Linked DNA regions of Homo sapiens: all the other regions are linked to region 1. The links come from fine-mapping of genetic effects on gene expression. A gene starts in region 1. Each other region holds a variant in brackets. All regions are shown on one strand. Distances are between the middles of the regions. Region 1 holds the start of LINC02981 (long intergenic non-protein coding RNA 2981). Region 2 overlaps LINC03007 (long intergenic non-protein coding RNA 3007). Region 3 overlaps LINC02981 (long intergenic non-protein coding RNA 2981).

Region 1 (7,563 bases):
ATTTTGTTGAAAACTAAGACACAAACAGATACATTAGCCTAGGCCTACACAGGATCAGGATCATTAATATCACTGTCTTCCATCCCCACATCTTGTCCCATTGTAAGGTCATCAGTGCATAGAACTGCCATCTCATTTTTTTTTTTTTTTTTTTTTTGCTCTTATCACCCAGGCTGGAGTGCAATGGCATGATCTCCACTCACCGCAACCTCTGCCTCCTGGGTTCAAGCGATTCTTCTGCCTCAGCCTCCCAAGTAGCTGGGATTACAGGTGCCTGCCACCACACCCAGCTAATTTTTGTATTTTTAGTAGAGATAGAGTTTCACCATGTTGGCCAGGCTGGTCTCGAACTCCTGACCTCAGGTCATCCACCCACCTTGACATCTCAAAGTGCTGGGATTACAGGTGTGAGCCACCGTGCCCACCCCCATCTCCTCTATTAAAATTCCTTCTTCTAGAATCCTTCTGAAGGACCTGCCTGTGGCTGTTTTATAGTTAACTTTTATACATATATGTGTGTATAAATATGTGTGTATGCATGTGTAGAAAGTAGTCTAAAATAATAATAAATAGTATAGTAAATGCATAAACTAGTAACAGTTGTTTATTGTTATTATCTAGGATTATGTACTTGATAATGTGGCATACTGTGGTATGTGGTATACTTTTAAATAACTGGCAACGCAGTAGGTTTGTTTACACTGACACCACCACAAGCACACAACTAATGTGTTGCATTAAGATGTTACAAGGGCTAAGACATCACCAGGCGATAGGAATTTTTCAGCTCCACGGTAATCTTACAGGGCCACTATCGTATATGCAGTCCATTGCTGATCAAAACATCATTATGGGGCACATGACTGTATTATTAATTGAAAATATAAGATGTTGAAGATTAACATTCAGCATTAACCCATTTGTGTAAACAAAGAGTAGATATACAGTCATGCACCACATAATGACATTTCGGTCAACAATGGACCAAATATACAACAGTGGACCCATAAGATTAATATGGAGCTGAAAAATTCCTATAGCCTAGTGGCAATATAGCCATCACAATGTTGTAGAGCAATTACCTTTTTAAATATAAATTTAGTGTAGCCTAAGTGTACGGTGTTTATAAAGCCTACACTAGTATACACAATGTCCTAGACCCTCACATTTACTCGCCACTCACTCCACTCACCCGAGCAACTTCTAGACCTGCAAACTCCATTCATGGTAAGTGCCCTATACAGTTGTATTTTTTCTTTTTTTACCATTTATACTGTATTTTTGCTGTACCTTTTCTACATTTAGATACATAAGTACTCACCATTGTGTTACAGTTGCCTACAGTGTTGTTTTTTTTTTTTTGAGATGGAGTCTTGCTGTGTTGCCCAGGCTGGAGTGCAGTGGCATGATCTCTGCTCACTGCAAACTTTACCTCCCAGATTCAAGTGATTCTCCTGCTTCAGCCTCCTGAGTAGCTGGAACTACACGTGTATGCCATCAAGCCCAGCTAATTTTGGGGTTTTTAGTAAAAACAGGGTTTCACCATGTTAGCCAGGCTGGTCTTGAAGGCCAGCCTTGGCCTCCCAAAGTGCAGGGATTTACAGGCGTGAGCCACAGTGCCTGGCCAATTGCCTTCAGTATTCTGTTACAGTACCATGCTGTACAGGTTTGTAGCCTAGGAGCAATAGGCTATACCATATAGCCTAGGTGGGTAGTAGGCTACACCATCTAGGTTTGTATAAGTACATTCTCTGATATTCGTGCAATGATGAAATCGCCTAACGATGCATTTCTCAGAACATATTCCCATCATTAAGAGATGCATGACTGTATATATTTGCATGTGTTTTTAAGTTACTGGAAGAATATACAAAAATATTAATAGTGCTTGTAACAGTGAATGGTATAGAAAGAAGGAAGGAAGGAGTGGGAGGATTCTGTTTTTTATTTCATACACTTCTACAGTGTTTGAATTATTTTTATTGAATATGTTACTTTCATTATTTTTAAAAACATCTTCTTCCCACCTTCTCATCTTGTCTATTTCAGCCTAGCCAACTAGGTTTTCTCAGGACTGAGGTTATTTATTCCATATTAACTCTGTCTCAAGCTCATATGCATCTCCCACGATTATTTTTCCCAAAACACTTTAGGTTTAAGAATGACCTTTCCTAGGTCTTTAGCTTATGATTAACCAAATGAAACCATCACTAGATGGACTCCCTAATTCAGGTGTTGAATTACAAAAATGAATTTTCAGGGGGAAAAAAATGCTAACTCAATTATGTTAGTTAAAATATCAGTAAAATTAGCAATGCCACAGTGTCATGAAGCAGAAGGTCAAAGACCCACACACCCTTTACTGGGCGCCATGGTGGGACTTAACTGGGGCAGTTCCGGTTCTGCCATTAGGACCATGAGCACTCCAATCTCAGTGAAATTGTATAAGACACTGCCATTATCCCCGGATCATTGCCACGATAGACCCAAACAACTCCAGTCTATCGTGTCAATGTGTATTTGGGGAGTCTTTAACACACGGATCATTGGCGAGCTGCACCATAAAAGCCCTGTAGGAGCCGTGGCCGTGTGTGGAATCAATGCACACTCGGGGACTTCCCCACGCCCGGATCATTTGCAGCGCATCGTGTCAATGCATACTCCGGGAGCCCCTACTCCGAAGCCTGTGAGTGCTGAGGAACAGTGTACACCAAAAATACTTATGGAATAGTTGTTACAGTGCGTACACAGTATTCACTTTTCTAAATGGCATGTCAGCAAGTTTAGTGTGCCACAAATAACTCCTAAAAGGCACAAAACACTCCTAGAGGCCCACCTTCACACATGAATGGTTGGTCCATGGAATTGTGGCATGGCTGTGGGGGAGTGTAAGTTTTTCTTTACAGTGAACAAAGGGAAAAGAAAGAGACATCTGCTATTCAGTGTTGTCAGGGTTTTCAGCATAATCCCAAACACCTCCTAATTATTTTCCTGGGCATTTGATCCCTAAGATACAAGGACCTTCCCTCCATCCCTGCCCTGTTCCAAAGTACCTGTAGAGCAAGCTGAGAGGGCAGAGTTAGAGGATGGGTGGGGTTGGGTCTTAAGTGCGATCCCACAGAGATATAATGTGAACCACATGTGTAAATTTAAATGTTCTTTGTGGCCACATTTTTAAAAAAAGATTTAATTCATGATACTTTATTTCACCCCATATACCCAAAATATTATCATTTCAATATGCAATCAATGTTTTTAAATGATGAATGAGCCAGTTCACATTCTTTTTTCCATACAGTCTTCTTTACAATGGGGTGTGTATTTCCCACTTGGAGAACATCCTGGTCTGGCCTGGCCACACTGCAAGCCCTCGGCAGCCTCTTGTGGTCAGTGGCTGCCCCAGTGAGCAGCACAGCTACAGAGGTTCAGGAAAACCAACCCCAGGAGCGTGGATGTTCACTGCCTTCCTTCAACCACTCCAGGCAGGTGCGTCCACCTTTCCTCCTCATTGCCTCACCAGGGCTGCAACTGCCGAACAGCCTTTTCTCGGCAGCCTGACAGAATAGCTGTGTGTTGGGTTTCTGCAATCATAAAAAATGACCACAAATATGCATTCGGAAAGAGGAACGAAAACTCCTCTAGGCCCAAACGGTAATGGCAGTACTAGGTCATCTTTCTTGGAGACGGAGGTGAAGGGAGGGCAAGGGGCCCCTGGGGAAGGAAAGAGGAGGCGGGCGTGGCGTCGAGCGCGAGGGCGGCGGCCTAGCTGCACCCGCGAACTTCCCCACACCTGCGACCAGCTCACCTCGCGGCGTGAGGGATCCCTGGCAGTCGGACGCGGCAGGGTGGCTGGTTTCTGGGGCTGAGTCTGGCCCGACACAAAAGAGGAGGGAAAGGAGAAGGAGACGGAAACAAAGGCGCGGGGGAGGACGAGGAGGCGCGCGCGGTCGCGGGGCAAAGCGGCGATGCGGTGCGGGCGCGCGCAGCCTGGGGCTCCCGGGACCAGCGGGCGGGAGCAGGCGGAGCGGGCAGGGCGATTTGAATATCAGGCTCTGCCACACTCGGGGCGCCGCTGACAACTTCATTACCTCCGCATATAAAAATGACTGCCGGGGAATGCAAATAGCTCGCCTGTCTCAGCCGCCTGCCCTCGTTCCGCCGCCGGCTGCAGGCGGAGGCCCCGGGAGCCGCGGCGGCCGGAGGCGCAGACGCGCCCTGTCCAACATAATGAACTGCCCGGCCGCGGCTCCGCCCACCCCCCAGCCGCCGAGCCGGGCCGGGAGGGGGAGCCGGCCCGGTGCTGGAGGAGGAAGGGGTGGGCGGCCGGGCGCGGCTCAGAGGCCGCGCGTTGCTAGTCAGTGTCGGCGCAGGCCCTGCCTCTTGACTCTGTCATCCAATTACTGCCATGAAAATACCAGGAAACTAGAGTGCTCAGTGGGTTCCACTCGTGACCGCGAACTCTGACGGAAAAGCGGGACCCCCGGCCTCCGTCCCGTGCGCCCTGGTGGTTAAATTGGACGCCAGCATCCCGGCGCCCCGCTCTCGTCTCGCCTGCAAGCGGGCGGCGGGTGTGCTGCGCCCTGCTCCCCAGGCCTGCGGCCACCGGGACAAGGCTGCGTCGCTGTGCAGGACCCGCCTCCCGAACCCTGGGCCTTGCTGAGCTCCCCGTGTGGCCACCGAGGCAAGCCGCGTGCGGGAGGGAACGCAGGCTTCACGGCGCCTCTCTTCTTGCCCTGGCTTGCTCCCTGGCAAGAAGTCACCTCCCGCCTTCTGATAGCTCCCCCTGTCACATTTGGGCCCCTTGTGAACTTCTCGAGGAGAGGAGCTAGGTCACTTTTATTAATAGCAACAACGACAGTAGTAAACATATGCTGAGGACTATTCTACGCAAGGTACTATGCCAACTGCTTTACCTACATGTTTATCACAGCGATCTTATTGCACTCCTGGAAACCCAGGCTTAGCAAAGCCTTGAAAGGTTCCCAGCATAACCCAGCTAAGGTGGGAGGGAGCACAGGTGAGAACCCAGGCCCCTCTACACTCTCAATCACTCTGCAGTATTTTCCGGGTCCTTCTTACAGCTCACACAACTGTCCAGCACTCCTTTGTCCCCCGAACGCATCACCCCCAGCCATCTTAGGCCGGGCCAGCCCCCCGCCCCCACCCTCACCCCCTCCCTCACCCCCTCCCTCACCCCCTCCCTCACCCCCTCCCTCTCCTTGGCCCAGAAGTAAATCCTAAGTAGTCTAAATCCGTTATGACCAACCCCTTCCCTTGCCCAGGCACTGGCTTAGAAAAGAGCATGTGACCAGTCCTGGCCAAGGCCAAGCCAGGGGACATCTGTTGGGGTTTTCTGGGAAATGCTTCCTTGCCCTAAAAAAAGACACCTCTAGCGATTCCAGTTTCTTCTGTTGTAGAATGTATATCCACCACCTGGCAACCACGGAGGAGCCAGGGAACAAAGTTAGTCTTTGCAGAGATTTACAGGATTAAGTGAGCTAACTCCAGGGTTAAAGTTTAGGAGAATCATGTTTTAGTCCTATCTCTACCTGCGATGGAGTCATGCTGCCTCGTGTTTATTCAGGGACATATTTAAAGTTAACTCCTTTTTGAAACGAGACAAGATAAAAAGATGTAAACAAAGGAAAACTCCAGAAATTTGGTCTTGTCTCCATTAAAGAGTGTCTGTTTCTAGGCACTTCAGTGGAACCTCTCACTTCCAGCTTCTCTTCCTGGGCACTCACCTCTAACTCATTCAGCTTTTTTCCCTCAAAGTAGCTCTTTGCCTACACAGGCAAGGCATCTCTTCCCTCCAGGAACATCAGAACCCCCCTTCTAACCCTCCTGCACCCACACACCCAGGCGTCTGAGCTTGACTGCCTTTGAAATGTTTACTGGCCTTCAAGTAGTCTCTTTGAAGAATTTGCATCTAATTTTGAACTTAGGGAAAATCGGGCATAACCAGTCACTTACTAGTTTCCTTGGCAACTACTTTAAAACAGAATCTAAATTGGAATGAAAATGGATTTTTATGGTTTCACTAAAATCATACACACTTTTCATGAAAATATACCAAAAAAACTATAAAAAATATATACATACTATATGCTTTATTCGTTTATCTGGAATCAATACACAGTAACTAACTCAAATATCTCTGTTCCCCACTGCTGAGGAAAGGCACTCCACACTCCCTTAGCAAGACATTTAAGACCCTCCACAATCTGCACCTAACCCAGCTCCAGCCTTATTTGTCTACTACAGTACATCCCCAAATCATGCTATTGCATTTCCTCTCCCATGACATTCTCTAGAATGCCCTTGAACTTCATGTCCAACTGTTCAAATATCACCGATCTTTCCAAGTCCAGATTAAATATCACCTCTTCCAAGAAGCTTTTCCCATTCCTCACATATAATGACACAAATTGAGTTACTTAGTGTTTATTTTCAGCAATATTTAGCATATTTTATTTACTGATACCCAGTATTGTTAAAATAATGCACATTTCCTAACAGTTGGGGGGCTTCAATATTACCATGCAAACAATTAAAATGAGTAATAAATATTATCAGCAGAATTGTATAAATCTTACTCCCAACTTAAGGCTGAGCTGTTCTGTCAGATGTGATAAAATAAAGCTTCATACGCTGCTTGTTTTTCTTAGGATAACTTTGATTTCAGTAATAGAAAACCTGTCTGTAGTAGCTTTAAAAATGAAGAAAATGTAGTATCTCATGTAGGAAGTACCAAGGTAGCAGATGCTAAGTTTGGTTAATTTAGTGGGTCAAAAATGTTTAATGTTGTCAAGTTTTTCTCGTCTTTCTGAAATTCTGCCATCCTCAGCTTGCTGACCTTGTCCTTAGCTAGTTCTCCTCAAGGTCTCAAAATGGCTGCCATAGTTCCAGGCATCACTTTAAGACATGGCAAAGGCCAGCCAAAAAAGTTGACTGTTCTCAAATTTTTTAAGAGTGGAGAAATTATACCAAAGATCCCTCAGATCTTTTCTCATTGGCCAGAACCAGGGCACGTGACTATCTCTAAACTACCACTGGCAAGAGAGGCAAGATTATCAGAATTGATAACTAATCAGGATTTAGTCTTGAATTATTTTGAGGGTAAGGGGAGCGGTGCAGGAGAGCAGGGAATTGACAGGACAGGCAATGCCAAAACAAAAGCTGAATTTTAGTCCGTTTCCCAGTCATCAATTTCTGCAGCCAAACTATCCCAAAGCTTAGTGGCTTAGAAACTTTTTTATTTTTTCTCTAGAATCTGGACAGGGCAGCTCCCAAGGAATAAGGAATAAGGGAGGATGGCTATTGAGTAGGCACTAAAAGTATCAGCAACTTTTCTTTTCTTTCTTTTTTTTTTTTTTTTTTTGAGATGGAGTCTTACTCTGTTGCCCAGGCCAAGCTGGAGTGCAGTGGCACCATCTCAGCTCACTGGAACCTCTGCTTCCCTGGTTCAAGGAATTCTCCTGCCTCGGCCTCCCAAGTAGCTGGGATTAAAGGCGCATGCCACCACGCCTGGCTAATTTTTGTATTTCTAGTAGACACGGGGTT
Region 2 (7,563 bases), 670 kb after region 1:
TGGAAGCAGAAGCAGGTAGAAAAGAGAAGTGAGCATGGGAGGAGGGATACAGTCACGTGCTGCATAGCTGTGTTCCGGTCAACCACAGACCACACTTATGACAGTGTGCCGACAAAACTATAATGGAGCTGGAAAATTCCTATTGTCTAATGACATCATAGCTGCCATAAGGTCCTAGCACAAAATGCATTACCTTTTCTGGGTTTGGATATGTTTAGATACACAAATCCTTACTACTGTGTTACAATCGCCTACAGTATTCAGTACAGTAACATGCTCTACACGTTTGTAGCATGGGAGCAATAGGCTATAGCATATAGGTTGGGTGTGTGGTAGGCTCTACCATCTAGGTCTGTGTAAGTACACGCTATGATGTTCACACGATGATGAAATCGTCTAGCAATGCATTTCCCAGAAGATGTCCCTGTCATTAAGCCATGCCTCACTGTACCTTGAAAATCCCTGAACACACTGGACACCCCTGGGTCCTGGTGAAGATGCCCTGTCTGCTTGGATTTAGAACCATTTTCAACTCATCTCAAGTACCAGGAGGAGCTGCTCATCTTGTAGATCTGGGCTGTTCAGCAGTGAAGGGGTTACGTGTAAGGGTGATCAAAGATTTAAACTGTCATGTCGACAGTAAGCCGAGGAACAGGCTGTGCAGGGGCCTTAATAAATCTGCCCTTGACTTATGGCCGAACCTCATTCAGCAGAAAATTATTTCTGCAGCATATTGAATGCTCTGCTCTGATGGAGACAGAAATAAAAAGAAAGGTGGAAATGGGGAGAAGAGAATGGAAATTCAATCCACATGTGGTGGAGAGGACTCTTCAGTAAATTCTTTCTCAGATGAAATAAGAAACAGAATGTGTAGGACTCTTGGAATAGGGTACATTCCTTTGATTACTAAAATGTCTTAGGGGACGAAAACGGACAAGCAGTGATTCTCAGAAAAGATCGATCTGGAGGATGGGAGTGGGGAAGGAGGGGGCAAACCTCTCCCTTAGTGATTTAGACATGATTGCTCATTTATTTATTTGTTTAGTCAATCAGGCTTTATTGAATGTTTACCTACTGTGGCCATTGAGATGAGCAAGACATCTTAAGGAGTTTGCAGTGACTGAGTTAGAGCCACATGTTCACTGAGCATCTAAAATGTCAGGCACCAGCTCAGTGCAATACAGCACAACGCAGACACACCTCTGGAACCTTCTCTGAGTCAAATCTGAGACTCTGTAGTAGGGTTCCAGGTATCAGAGGAGGGTCAGCAACTTTTTCACAAGACATTTCCCCAATTCAGTATAAGGAATAGGGGCTTCATTAATTGGAAAGGTTGATTTGGGAAAAAAACCCAGTCCCTTTCTCAGATGATATGGGATTTAAATCTCTTATTGCTTTTCCTTAGGATATTTTAGAAAGAGAAGAAAGGGTTAAGATTGGGGGCTTCTGTATTTTTCAGTCCAGTTTATAAAAGTATGAAGGATCCTTCCAATCCCAGACCAGAGAAAATTTGAATTCAAGAGATAATTTAGGAGACAGAACTCCTTCTCTTTCCACCAGTTCTGAAACTATTGGGAAAAGCTCAAGAAAACGCAAGAAAATAATCCAAACATTTCCTCTTCTAAATAATTTATTCACTGTTTTTTTTTTTCTTCCTATACTTTCATTCCCAGAGCTGTAATGAGTTTTAGAAACACAAGGTGTCAGATATTGACTTTTTGTTGTTGTTGAGTTCTCTAAATTCATGACCCCTCTGGGCATTCTAGGCATAGATAATATATAATTCAAAGAAGAGAGCTGCAGCTTTCATCTTCTCTTTCTTGTAAGTTTTGGAGCTTTTTGTTCAAAGGGTGATCTGTTCTGCTGCAGTAGAACCAGCCCTGTTTCCAAAAGTTTTGGCAGAGGACATGGTGCCCTGTGGTACCTTAAGGCTTTGGGAGACTCTCCCTAACTGGGTTCCATGCTTCTGTGAGTTGGAAGTGTGGATTCGTCCTGTCCTGTCCAAGGTTGGCTCTGCTGTTGATCTGCACCAAAAACGAAGGAGAGAGAGCAAGATAGAACCAGCTAGCTGTCTTAGGGAAAGGGTTGAGGCAAAGGCCAAGGCCATGTGTGCAAATGAAGATTCTCATCTGCAAATGAGAGTGGTGGTTGGATGAATTGGGGTAAGGAAGTCCAGGGGTTAAACGGAGGAATTTTGCTGAAGATAATCTCTCAACCTTCAAGAAACAAAGAGACAATTAGCCCAGAGATGGCTCCACAAAGGACTGGATTACCAGTTCACAGAGCAGGGCTAACCACTCCAACATGAAGTATTCCAGAACGGTTTGTCTCTGAGTGGGTTGTGTGTCTGGGTGTCCTTGATGGGGAACCAATTCATAGATGCTTCTGTGACTTTTCTCTAGCTCTATCTCTTGAGATGTTGCTATCTCTCTTTCTGAGAAAGGAAAGTTGAACTCCGAGTTGCCTGAAGAGGACAGGGGCTGTGGTTATCTCCCCAGGTAAACCTTGGGAGAGCCTTGGGGTTTCAGAACTGAAGAGGTTGATGAAACTGACTATGGCCAAGAAGACTGACTACTACTAATCAGCTCCTCTCCTCATGTTAAATAATTAGTAATGTATTATTGAAATATATTATTCATAAGCTCAATTTAATATCTTTTTGTGCACACATATATATATTTAGTTTTTATTTTTCCTCTCTCCTTCCTTTATGTAGTTATTAACTATTTAACTATATAAATAAATTTCATCCTAACAGGGCATTCTGGCAAAGCATATAGTAATATAGATGCAGAGAACCTTGTGATTACTTATGTCACTCTGGGTAAAATATGTCATCACTCTATTCCTGGCTTTCCCCATTTGTACAAAAAGAGAACACACCTCTTTTACTTTTCTCAGTGTAAAGACTAAGACGATCTAGTGTGGTAGGAGTTACTAAGAAATTATTTTAGGCAGATAGAGAGGAAAAAAGGGGTCCTTGGAAGATTTTTCGCGGCTCTTGTCTAGCATGAAAGAGAATCCTGACTCTTAGACCCCAGCTGGCAACCTTTGATATGCAAATGCAAACCGTTAGAAACTGGATCCACCCAACATGGCCGGCTGGCAACCTTTAATATGCAAATGCAAGGCGTTAGAAACTGGGTCCACCCAACATGGCGATTCCCACCGTTGCCCTCTTACCCTTGCCCCCACATGTGCCTAGCAGCATGGTTGCCCCCACATATCCCCAGGTGTGTGGAACATCATGGCGCCCTACATTTGCATGTTAAAAGACTAGGGTGAGA[G/C]AGCCAGTTTTTTCACGGTCTACGTGAATGACATGCCTTGTCAAACCAATCCCCTGAGCCCCATGCAAATCAGACACCGCCTCCTCCAGCCATCGAATATAGCTAGTTGATAGCAGGGTTCCCTCTCAGCTTTGGAGCCCTCCCTCCCTCTGTCTCTGTACAGGGAAGCTTCTTCTTTCTTTCTTCCCCCTTCTTTCTTGTCTATTAAACTCTCTGCTCCTTAAAACTACTCCATGTGTGTCCGTTTCATTTTTTCTAATTCTACTCGAGATGAAGAACCTGGTGTTCTCCACTCATCAGAGCCCTGTCACTAGCTCCTCACCCCATCTCCACTAAGACTTGAAGTTCTTCGAGAAGCTTGTACAGAAGTAAAAATAAGGATGATTTTCTTTCATTTTAATGACCATCATTTGGCTACTTTCATTTAGAACTGGAAAAAAATCTGTAGATACTTGATGATTTCACGAATAGTTTAAGCATTATGATTTATTTGGATTCCTAACTGAGGAATAAGTTCACCTTGTCTCTCTAGGAGCCCACATAGCTCTTTGTGCCCCATCCTGCCATCCATGTGCCCAGATGAGATTTTCAAGGACTTTTCTTGCTGTCCTTGAGAGGTAACTGTTAGGAAGTGTCTGGCCAGCGATCGCTGCGACTGAAACCCCTTTCTTTTCCCTTTACCCTGGATGGTCTCCCCTTTCCTTACCTAAGCCAGATTTCCTTTCCTCACACTTGAATCCAGAGTTCACACTGGAGAAAAGGGTTGGAGAAGTCAGAGGAAACCTTTGACAAATGCCTTGGGGTGAGGGGTGAGTAGGAGGATGGAGAAGCTAAAGAAAAAAGAAAAAAACAACAAAAAAACCTTAGGCTAAGAATGAGGAGGAGGAGGCAGCAGTGACCTGGAGGAGGCTTTAGATATCAGTTGCTTTTAATGTTCCTGATTTAACCTGAAACAAAGGAGACCCGAAGCTTTTAAAAGAAAAGAAAACCATGGAACTGAAACAAAGCTGATCAATTATAAGGGAGGGTGTTATATCAATATTCACCATGTCAGGTTATTCCATCCTGGGAGGTGTAATGAAAGCCCCCGATTGGCTTGATTAAAACTCAGAAGAAGATGAAGAGAAAGGAATGTGTCTGAGTACAGCTGTTCAAAATGCAAACTTGTTTTTTAGCTTGGTATATCTAAGATTGAAACATCGCCAAATAATTGCTGGGAAAGTATTTGGTTAGGTTTCAAAAGACTGTTTAAAGAAACTGACTAGCTGTAAAAATGGAATATTCGGAATGGCTGTCTGGGAAAAATAAAATTAAGAACTGGAAAGACGTGCTCCATAGGCATAAGGGAACAAAAAACAGTGTAGAGGAGGAGATGGTATTTTGTATTTTTAAGGATGAGAGTGAAGGTGTCTGAGCAAGAGTTAATTTGCCAAGTTTTGAGTTGTGAATTTTTTCCTTGCTGTGGTTTCCAGGAAGGATTAGGACTTTAGTTTTTATGCAAAGTGGCATCTTATTATAGAACAAAAGGTGACAGCCTCGAGTTACTGTATCTAAAATCTGGAATTCTGCTTCAGGCATTCATCTCGCATCTAGTTAACTTTAGAAATAAAATCAGAGGGAATTTGGCCCTCAGGTTATAGGGCTGGAAAATGCTTTGAGAGGCCTTCTAGTAGGATTACTTCTAAACTCGCCCTGACAGATGAAAATTTATCTTATTTTTAAATGTTCCCCAGAGGAAGAGTGTCCACAGACTTCCTTAGTAACTCATTCTAGTTTTTAACGACCTCCACATTCAGGAAATTCCTTCTTCTGTCTTACCTAAACCACTCGGCCTCAGTTTAAGTCCATTTTCTTTTGATCTGCCCCAGTAGAGATGGAAAAAAGTGGGTCACCATTTTGCACAAACATCCTTTCACGTAATTGAAGATTAATTTTTAAAATCCAAAAAGTTCTCTATCTCCTCTTTATCTCATTGAATCTCCCCACTTCCTTTAGCCTTCTTTCCCTTGGTAGTTCCATCTTCCAACCTGTTATCCACATTTGCCGTTGCCTCAGACACTTCCTCTGTCATCTGAAGCCCATTTTGTAGGCTGGGAGAGATGGGAGAAAGTGGCAATGCACATCTCTCCTTATTTCTTTGGGCTGCCTGTGCTGGAACTCATATAACAAGCTATATATTGGCCTGATAATGTTTAAAGATTTTAACATTTTTCTTGCCCACATTATAATTGTTTTCAAAGTCAAATTTTGCTCACACAGTAGTTCTGTGGGCATTTACAGAGGCATATATTATATCTTTAGGTTTCAGAAGGGCAAAACCAAATTATGGCAATACGTTAATGTAATATACTAAGAATTATTCAGTATAGGCCGGGCGCGGTGGCTCATGCCTATAATCCCAGCACTTCGGGAGGCTGAGGTGGGTGGATCATGAGGTCAAGAGATCGAGACCATCCTGGCCAACATGGTCAAACCCCGTCTCTACTAAAAATACAAAACTTAGCTGGGTGTGGTGGCACGTAGCTGTAGTCCCAGCTACTGGGGAGGCTGAGGCAGGAGAATTGCTTGAACTCAGGAGGTGGAGGTTGCAGTGAGCTGAGATCATGCCACTGCACTCCAGCCTGGCGACAGAGCAAGACTCTGTCTCCAAAAAAAAAAAAAAAAAAAAAAAAAGAAGAATTATTCAGTATAATGCAAAAAGCAAATTCAATAGTTGTTCCTAGATTAGAAAAAAAAGTTTTTGCCCAGGAGGTCTTTTCACTAGGTATGAGCATTTCAGTAAATAGCCTCTCAGCATTGCCCAACTGTTATTTGATATTTTCCATGAACTGGTTTCTTGGGTTGAACTCCTGATCTTTCCCCTAGTTCTTGGTGATGAGACCCTAGAATCTAATTAGATATCACATTCGCCAGCACTTTACCCAAATGCTTCCAGGACAGGGCAAAGTCTCGATGTGTTTTCTTGGGTATCAAAGCTGTTGGCTAAACAAAGTAATGGATTTTTTATAATTTACTTTTGCTTTAAATGAGGTCCTATTATTATCTGTTTGCACAGTTTCCAACAGGTTTAGATATTTGGGGATCAGAGAATCACTGACATGGACATGACTTTACAACTGGCATTAAAAAAAATTTCTAAAGAACTCTAAAAAGATTTTGAGACAGTTTCAGATTTCCCCACAGTTTTCAAAACATGGTTGTGAAGGTTTAAATGGGAAACAGGTGCTTTTAAAAATCAATTGATATTTTGATGAATCATGTGTTTACTTGTACTTGTGTCTTAGCAAAAGACCGTGGAGAAAATAAAAACATAGAGAAAGCAGGCTACTTGTCAATCATTCTGTAGAATGAGTTCATAGCAAACCAGGGCACAGTGCTACATTGGAAGCTGGAGTCCTAGAGGCCTCATGTTCCTCTGATTTTATTCTTATTCATTAGAGGACACCTATCATGGGCCAGGCAGTAGTCTAAGCACCAAGGTTACTGCAGAGAATAAAAAGAGACAGAAGTCTTTGCTCTCAGAGAACTTACATTTAATTTTGGTTTTATACATTTATCTTCTCCAGGATCTATTAGAGTTAGAAATTTTTGTTTAAAAAAATTTAAAAAAGAACTTTACTTTCAAAAATGCATCCCTTATTTTGCAGCCATTAAAAATTATTATTTATGGAAAGGGTATGGTAATGCAGCAAATGCTTGGTGGGTTACCATACTAAATGACAAGAAGGATACAAAGTTGTATATGCAATTTTTCCTAAGTCAAAACTAAAATCAACAATATAATCATCCCCTTTTACACACACACACACACACACACACACACACAAGTAAAGGCTACAAAGAATATGCGTGCCAAAAATACAACAAAATTTTAATGGTGCTTGTGTTTCAGTAGCAGAATGATGGGCAATTCTTTTGCTTTTTACTTTTCTGCATTTTTTTTGTAGTAATCATATATTACTTTAATAATAGAATGACACATGTTCATTGAAAGAAAATAATTCCTTTCAATCTTTAAAGTCTTTAAAGTTTTGCAGTCTCTCATTAAAATACACCTGGGATGAATCAATTCTTAAGCCATCATCAGTAAAGACTTGAAAGATACACACCTGGGGAAGACAGACACCTCCAAAAGGGAGGAGCCTGGAAGGAAGCAAAATCAGATTTCAGTCCCGTCGCACTTTTCCTTGTCCTGGGCAGCTACCTGGCAGCAATTTCATGTTGTTCTTTCAATTAGGGATAGAGTGAAGACATGATCATTTGGTAAATGCGTTAG
Region 3 (7,563 bases), 59 kb before region 1:
CAGCTTTTCATGGGTACACCTCAGAAGCACAGCATGTATGTATAAGATCAAAACACAGCATTGACATTTTTAATAAGAAATCACTATCAGAGATGGTCTACAACAGTGTCAGCATCCTGTCTACTTTCTGTTGGCAAATGTTCAGCAGCAACAAGGCAACCTGAAGACAAGGTTTGGTGAACATTGAATTGAGACAGGAAAACTAAGTGTTTAAGTGGCACCATGATAGGATGGGATGTTCTTCCCAAAGGGGACCTGAATCCTTGAAATCTGTTGATTACAGACTTGTGATATCTATGATTTCTGACACCGTATTGGAGATGCATCTTTCAAGAGGCCTAGAAATTACCCGTCGATTGACTTCAGCTCCTTCTCTTTTGGACAAGGTTTGGGCAGTCCCTGCTAACATTTGCCTTTGAGTCCCTTTTTTTGTCCTGCTTCCATGCTGAGTAAACCCTCTCCTTTCTGATCAAAGCATTATTTCTTTAGATTTGCTAATAAAATTGCTCAAACAAGTTGCAATTGAGGGTGTGGGCTTGGAAAATTTTCAGCTCCTTCGGATGACTTCCAGCAGCTGCACTGTGATCCATTTTGTGCTAAAGGTTTAAATCTCAGAGAAACAACAGCCCCTCTTTATGGAGTTCTTAGGGACACCTTCTGGAGCCCCCAAGTACTTACAACAACCATGATTACCCATCTTTTTCAGTTTTCTCCACATATGCGTAACTAGGGAGAAGCTAGAATATCTCTTTTCTGTGCAGTTAGGCTGGGAACAGAAACCAGAGATGTCTCTAACAGTGACTGATGCAAAGATGATGATCTCACTAGAGAAGCAGGGCCTTCCCTCTCTTGCTTCTCCTTGGCTTCGTATGCCAGTAATTGCCCAGTGTCCATGAAAAATTGCAGCTAAATCCCAGGCTGAGAGCTCAAAATGGACTTTGGACATTTCTCTTCCTGGCAGACTTCTGTGGAAAGAGTTGAAGGATTGCTGGCAGTGAGAATGTCTCCATGAAAAGTCACCTGGTGGAGGTCAGGGGCGAGGGCCCAGGGTGAATTTTACCTTAAACAGGACAGATCTGCAGATAAACAAAGGGAACCATGGTTTTGAGCCTGGTTAGTTTCTTAATCCTTTGTAAGCACATACATCATTCCCTGCAAATTCTTCCTCCAAACTGGAATTCACCGGAAGAAATCAACTTATAGAGGCAGCTGTTTCTTCTCTTGCATGTCTTCTGTTAAACAAAATAAACTGTACAACTAGCAAGATTGATGGTAATAATATTAAGTCCAAATAATCCAAATCGATTCCATCAAGACCTGGAAAGGTAAGCTGGGGATAACGTTACAGTAAAGGCATGGTTCTTGGGAGACGGTAAAAGTGTTACATTCTGTGCTACCTTTAACCTACAGAACATGTTCTTAGGAGTCAGGCCAACCTGCAATTAAACCCCAGCTTTGCTGTCAGGTCATTCTGAGTCAGGTTGGGCCATTTTCCAAATCATAAAGTAGGCTAAGGTTTGATGGAAGAATTCAATCAGAGAGCATGTATCAAGAGCCTGGGCGAGTGCTTGGCACAAAATGGGTGCCGAATAAGTGGTGGTTTCCAGCTCTCTTTCTTCCACTCTAAAACAAGCACAGCCTAGCCTGTGCATTTAACAAGTAGCTCCTGCCACAAACCCATGTCCTTAGATGATACAGCAAATCCATACCCTTGATGAATGGCTTTACAATGGGCTACCCTTGTGCTGTATATCCTAAATGGACAGAGAAGCATCTAAGAAATCTAAAAGAAGCAAACTACCTGTCTCCATAACTCCAGAGCAAATCACAGTACCAAGGGCTGATTTGATGGGAAATCCCCCATCCATCACCACAAGGAGCAAAGCTGTGCCTGGGTCAGCCCAATAAGTAGCCATCCAGGAAATCCAGGTGTGCAGGGGGTTGGGAGAGGAACCAAGAAGAAGAAGCTAGAGGTCATTGGCTTTTCCCTGACCTCCGGCTACATTTCAGGGCCACCTTTAGGATGCCCCAACCTCTCTTCACACCACAGAAAGAGGACTTTGAAGATGTAGGTGGTGTCCCAGCTCCAACAAGGCAGGTTGTTCAGGGACTAACCAAGAGAGGGAGGTTGGAAAGTACTGGGGGTGTCCCATTGCCTCCCTTGTCCTTTCTTGACAGCCCCAATACAATTATAGATCCCCTGAGACCAAATTGTTTCCTTTTTAAGCTGTCCTTACATTTGGAACTCCCATAAAGAAAGCAATAAAATGAGAGGTACCCTCACACTGCCATGTGCAGGTGTTCCAAGTCGCAGCGAGTCATTTGAATCCCCACTTAGGCCAGCAGATTCATTCCATCTGTGCTTACAATTCAGTTGAGATCAGAATTTTCTGATGCACAGCTTTCCTGAAATGTCTGTTTCTCCATTGTTTTTCACATTCCAAAGGAGAAAAATCATCATTTCCATCCACATTATTAGAAACAAAACTAGCCCCTTTTCTCCCCAGCCCATATTATTGCCTCATTACAAATATATTTTGTGCATCAACCTTAAAGGTTATGTTTCCCTCCTGCTTCCTCCTTTCATTATACAAGATTTCCAGTTATCCAGTATTTTGTTCTCATTAGAACACTGCTTGTCACATGTTTTCACCAGAGACATTCATCACCAAGGTCAAAGGGTGAATATCGTGATCTATTATGCTTAGAGGAATCTAATGAAAAGCCACATAATTATCCAATTTAAAGAGAAGCAAGTAAAAAAGAAGGGGAGCACTTGCTATAATTTAAATTGTTTTGTTTCCCTGAAGCAAAATTCAGCACCTGATTGACAGGACCTAATGATAATTCTTATTGATACGGTGATGTTAATTGTGGAGAGATATTTAATAAGTCCCATATTCTGGAGGTAAATGCGTGCTCTTAACCTGCACCTGAACCTGATTTTTGATGCAGCGTGGGGATGAGGTACAGATACAGATAAGTGAGCACAAGTGGATTTTCAGTCTTGTGTGGCAGAATGGAAATTGGAATCTTCAGAATCTATTAGGAGAACAATTCCACAGTTGCTCACACTTTTATAAATTATACTGTATATTACAGAAAGACACAAAGTCAGGGGAGTTGCAAGAAGAGGATATTGTCATGACTTTACAGAGAAGTTTTTAGGGTAGCATTTGGTGACGGTGGTGGTGGTGGTGTTTTCAACTAAAGACACACATCAAAGAACGTGATCTGTATTCATTTTTAAACAAAATGCACTAATGAAATCCACATCCTGAATCATCTCTCTGCCACCCCCAGGTAAAGCTGACCTTGCAGAAAATGAGGCCAACTCTGAAACATAGGTAGATTCTTGGAAGAAAATGACTTCTTACACCGTGAACAAAACCATTTGAGAAGGCCTTCATGGGTCTAAATTACAAAAGGAAGTGATCCGTGCGGGCTGAAAACATCAACTAGATCTGCATCCCATCATGAGATGGCTGGGAGGCAGGAAACAGCTGCTGGAGCTGTGGACAGGCCTGAGGTCATCTCTGACTTTCTGAGAGGCCATTTCAAAGCCACTATCTGGACAAGAAAC[G/A]ATGGGTGACCAGATCCAGCTCTGTGTGATTCAACTCTGTACACCAGTGAGCCATCCCTCACAGAGAAGCTGTGTGTTCCTGGTGTTTTTTATTACGTGCTAAATACCAGAACTTTAAAACTGCATCTGTGATTGTCATGAGACAATGCCATCATTTTGGAACTAATACTCACACCGCCATCTTTGTGCAAATAATACAAGGTTAAAAAAGAAATAAAGAAAGAAAGAAAAACAAAAGAAAAGAAAAGAAAAGAGAGCTGCTCTAAAGACAAATAGACTTGAAAAAAATGAGTCAACTTGGAAAAAAGAAGTAACCAAAGTGGCTTAAATCTGAGGGACGGCAAATTGTTCAAATTAATTTCTTTCAACTCCAAGTTAACTCAGTCTTCCATTTTTACTTATGAGAAAAGAATATTACATGGTGAGTATTCTAATATAACCTGCTTAATGTAATTATTCATGCCAAAGCATAATTAACTTCAAAATAATCAAGCCACAGATAGTTATAACCTGAGTCACAGTGGGTCACTGTTACTAGAAGAGAAAGCTCTCAATCTACAAATAGGAACATGAGAGTAAAAATGTAATCATTAAAGGGTGTCAAGGAAAACAAGAGTAATTTTTAATGAAGAAAATGTTTAAAATGTCCTAAACATTTCAAGATAAGATTCTTCTTGAGCTTAGTTAGCAGCTGGGGTCTGGCACATCGGGGGTGATCAGTAATGAGCAAAGACCAGACATTCTTTTTTGCTTCCTGAACTTGCTTCATTTTTTTTTTGCTTTTAATACACACACACATACATATATACATATCCTTGGAATAGTTCAGATATAAATTATATTGACTTTGAGCCATGTACTTACCTTCACTGAAAAAAAAAGTCAAGTTAATTGGAGACGACCAAATTGATCGCGGGTTATGATACCAATAGCAGCTGAAATTGCTGCTGTGATTTTCAACTGCCTAAGCCAAAGCATTACATCATGCACAGGAGATTATAATTTCTCTGAAGAACACTTCTGGTATCTCACCACCCGAAAAGTGATATGCCAGCAAATTGATGAGAGTTCAGAGAAAAGCAATAAAAATAATTAAGGATTGACTGATGGAAAAAGATGAAAAGAATTGAATGTGGGCTGCCTGACCCAAAAATGACCTGGGTGGTTATAGGAACATTACCCAGGTATCTGGAGGGTCAAGATTCCTGTCTGTCCACACAGCAAAACAATGCAATAATAAACAAAACAAAGCTGTTGGATAATTCACTCCATGATTTGCTCTGGAAGCTGGTGCTGCTCTGGGCCAAAAACCAGGGTCATGTCTACTCTGAGCAGTCACCAGCAGTCACTCTATGCTTCTGTGTGTCTCTTAGTGTGGGCTCAAGGCTGACATGGAGGCTGGGATGCCACTGATGTTCCCCTATTTCCACTCTGGTGCTGTCTAACCATACACTCATCCTATGCCAGACACCTGGGTCCTTGAAATGGCCTGCAACCCAAAAGAGAAAAGGTAAAGACTGGTTAACATCATGGTTGAGAGTCTGGGTTCAACTCTCAGCTCCAATACTTTCCAGCTGAGTGACCTTGGGAAAGTTACTCAACCTCTCTGAGATTCTGTTTCCTCACTTGTAAAATGGAGAGAGGAATAGTGCCTTCCTTCTAGGATTGTTGAATGAAATTTTTCACATAAAGCACTTCTCAGTGCCTGGTGTGTAGTAAGTGCTCAACAAATGGTCGCTACTGTTCTTATTTATTATAATTAGCAGCAAGGGCCAGGAACACCTGAAGGGGCAACAAAGATCTGACTCTCCTAGTAGGGGTTCCAGGCCCTAAGACATTCACCATGACTTGCCTGGCCAGTGCCTGAACAGATGTTCACTAATGTTATCGATGTGCCTCTCCACCCCCCACCACCCAAACATGCCAGTTTCCTTTATATCTATTATAGGCTGGGGGACCAAATGTCCTAATTTGCCCAGGACAGTCTTTATGCCTGTTGACCTAGGGCAATTACTAATAGGACCCTCTTTCTGTCAAATCAGTTATGATGATGAATGATATGGTCAGCCTAGTTATGAATCTCTCAACATCTTTTTTTCTAAACCTTTTCTATCCTGCATCATCTCTTGACAATGAGTTTCTTAAGTATATTGAAGTTACTGTGAGAAAGTATTTTTACCAGTCCTGACCTTACCGAGGTCAACAGTTTTGCCATCTCAGGAGCTGGTGAATGGATCCACGGTCACCCTAGTCCCATATTGTCCACACTTCACTGTGCTCAGACTAAAGAGCCTAGCCAGTTAGTCTGTCCCACACTGATAAGCCTTCTGCATTCCCACTTTCATTTTAGTTGATTTGCTCTGGAAAATGTCCAGTGCCACTGGATCTTCTTTAAGAAGCATAACTGAAACTTTACTTTAGGTTTAAGTGAATGAAATAGTCCCTCTTTTTATTCCAGGGTTTGGAGTCAGGGGATCCAAGTTTGAGTGCTAGCGCCATCCTTTATACCTGCGTGACCTCAGGTAAATCACTTCATCTCTCTGAGCCTCACTTTCCTTATCTTCATAATGGCAATAATGTGTAGATAGTCATGCAATCTACAAATAGTGATAGCTTTACTTCTTCCTTTCCAATCTGTGGGCCCTTTTTTTCTTGCCTTATTGCACTAGCTAAGACCTCCAGTACAATGTTGAATAGAAGTGGTAAGAGTCAACACCCTTGCCTTATCCCACTCTTATGGGAAAAGAGTTTAACATTTTACCACTAAATATGTTACCTGTAGATTTTTCATAGCTGACCTCATAACAGGTTGAAGAAATCCCCATCTAGTCCTGGTTTACTGAGAGTGTTGAGTTTTGCCAAGTGCATTTTCTCTACATATTTAGATGATTACATATGTTCCCCATATTCTGTAACTTATTAAATGATAGTAATTAAATTTCAAATGTTTAAAGAATCTTATATTCTTGGGATAAATCCCATCTATTGCTGGACTCAATTTGCTGTATTTTGTTAATAACTTATGTGTCTCTTATTGATGTGATGCTATAAGAAAAGTATCTTTTCTCTATTCCTGTATCTGAGAATCAAATGAGATTGTGAATGTTAACATGTTTTCTAGACTGTAAAGTTTTGTCTACATGTGGACTCCAAAGCTGCTGCAGCTGCTAACGATGATGGCAAGGAATAGCACAAAGATGACCCTTGCCAAGGCAGCAGCCCACAGGCCGGTCAGGAATCAGCCTCCACAGCCCATTCCCACTCTTATAAATTCAGTCATAACCAATAACTCAGAACCCTCAGCCTGCGAGTCCAGCAAGGATGCCTCCTGGATTTTCCAACAAGGCCTCAATCTTAAATAATTCCTTCTATTGTCAACCTCATCAACCATGTGTCCTGATTTTAAGAGTATTTTTCCCTGAGTGCATTGACTTATTCTTGCCCACAGGAAGCTCATCTGCCACTTTCCTGATGACTCAAGTAGACTCAAAACATTTTCCCACAATCTGGCCAAACTCAGGAAATGGTAGGGCTTGTGATATGTGTATTGTTTTAATACATCTGTAAAGATTTTAGTCTCTACTTAGGAACTTAGGAAATTTAAAGTCAAGGACGGTATCTCAATTTTGACAAAAGTCACTGAAAATATCCGATGTTGTACATTTCTTGCATAATCCTGCATGTTCTCTCTTTCATTTATTGGCAAATCTGGGTCTAAGTGCAGGATACATAGAAGAAAGTAAGCTGGAAAAGGCACTGGCCCCCTCAGTCCAGTCTAGTTTTGTTCAGATTTGTTCTTTGTTTGTTTGTTTGTTTTTAGAAACAAGGTTCTACTCTATTACCCAGCTAGAGCACAGTGCTTCTATCTTAGCTCACTGCAACCTCAAGCTCCTGAGCTCAAGTGATCCTCCTGCCTCAGCCTCCTGAGTAACTGGGACTACGGGCACATGACACCATGCCCGGCTAATATTGTATTTTTT

Evidence for each region. PIP is the estimated chance that this variant, and not a neighbour inherited with it, causes the effect.
Region 2: its variant is fine-mapped to the expression of LINC02981 in esophagus mucosa (GTEx, PIP 0.97).
Region 3: its variant is fine-mapped to the expression of LINC02981 in spinal cord (GTEx, PIP above 0.99). The same link has a PIP of 0.9 or more in hippocampus and prefrontal cortex.

What each region holds. Positions count from the first base shown.
Region 1 is chr7:26,395,264-26,402,826 of GRCh38, reverse strand. LINC02981 (long intergenic non-protein coding RNA 2981) reads right to left here and starts at 4,258. Exons shown (of 5, transcript NR_148502.1): 1 at 3,806-4,258. SNX10-AS1 (SNX10 antisense RNA 1) reads left to right here and starts at 3,409. Exons shown (of 2, transcript NR_136272.1): 1 at 3,409-3,486. RefSeq lists silencers at 3,722-3,831, 3,922-4,381 and enhancers at 4,852-5,091, 4,166-5,122.
Region 2 is chr7:25,728,614-25,736,176 of GRCh38, reverse strand. The region is part of intron 1 of LINC03007 (long intergenic non-protein coding RNA 3007); the gene reads left to right. Among named protein-coding and RNA genes, the nearest start is that of LINC03007, 58 kb to the left of the region's middle. RefSeq lists enhancers at 2,011-2,521, 2,789-3,455. The variant G/C (reference allele first, on the strand shown) is at 3,288.
Region 3 is chr7:26,453,879-26,461,441 of GRCh38, reverse strand. The region is part of intron 1 of LINC02981 (long intergenic non-protein coding RNA 2981); the gene reads right to left. Among named protein-coding and RNA genes, the nearest start is that of SNX10-AS1, 58 kb to the right of the region's middle. The variant G/A (reference allele first, on the strand shown) is at 3,584.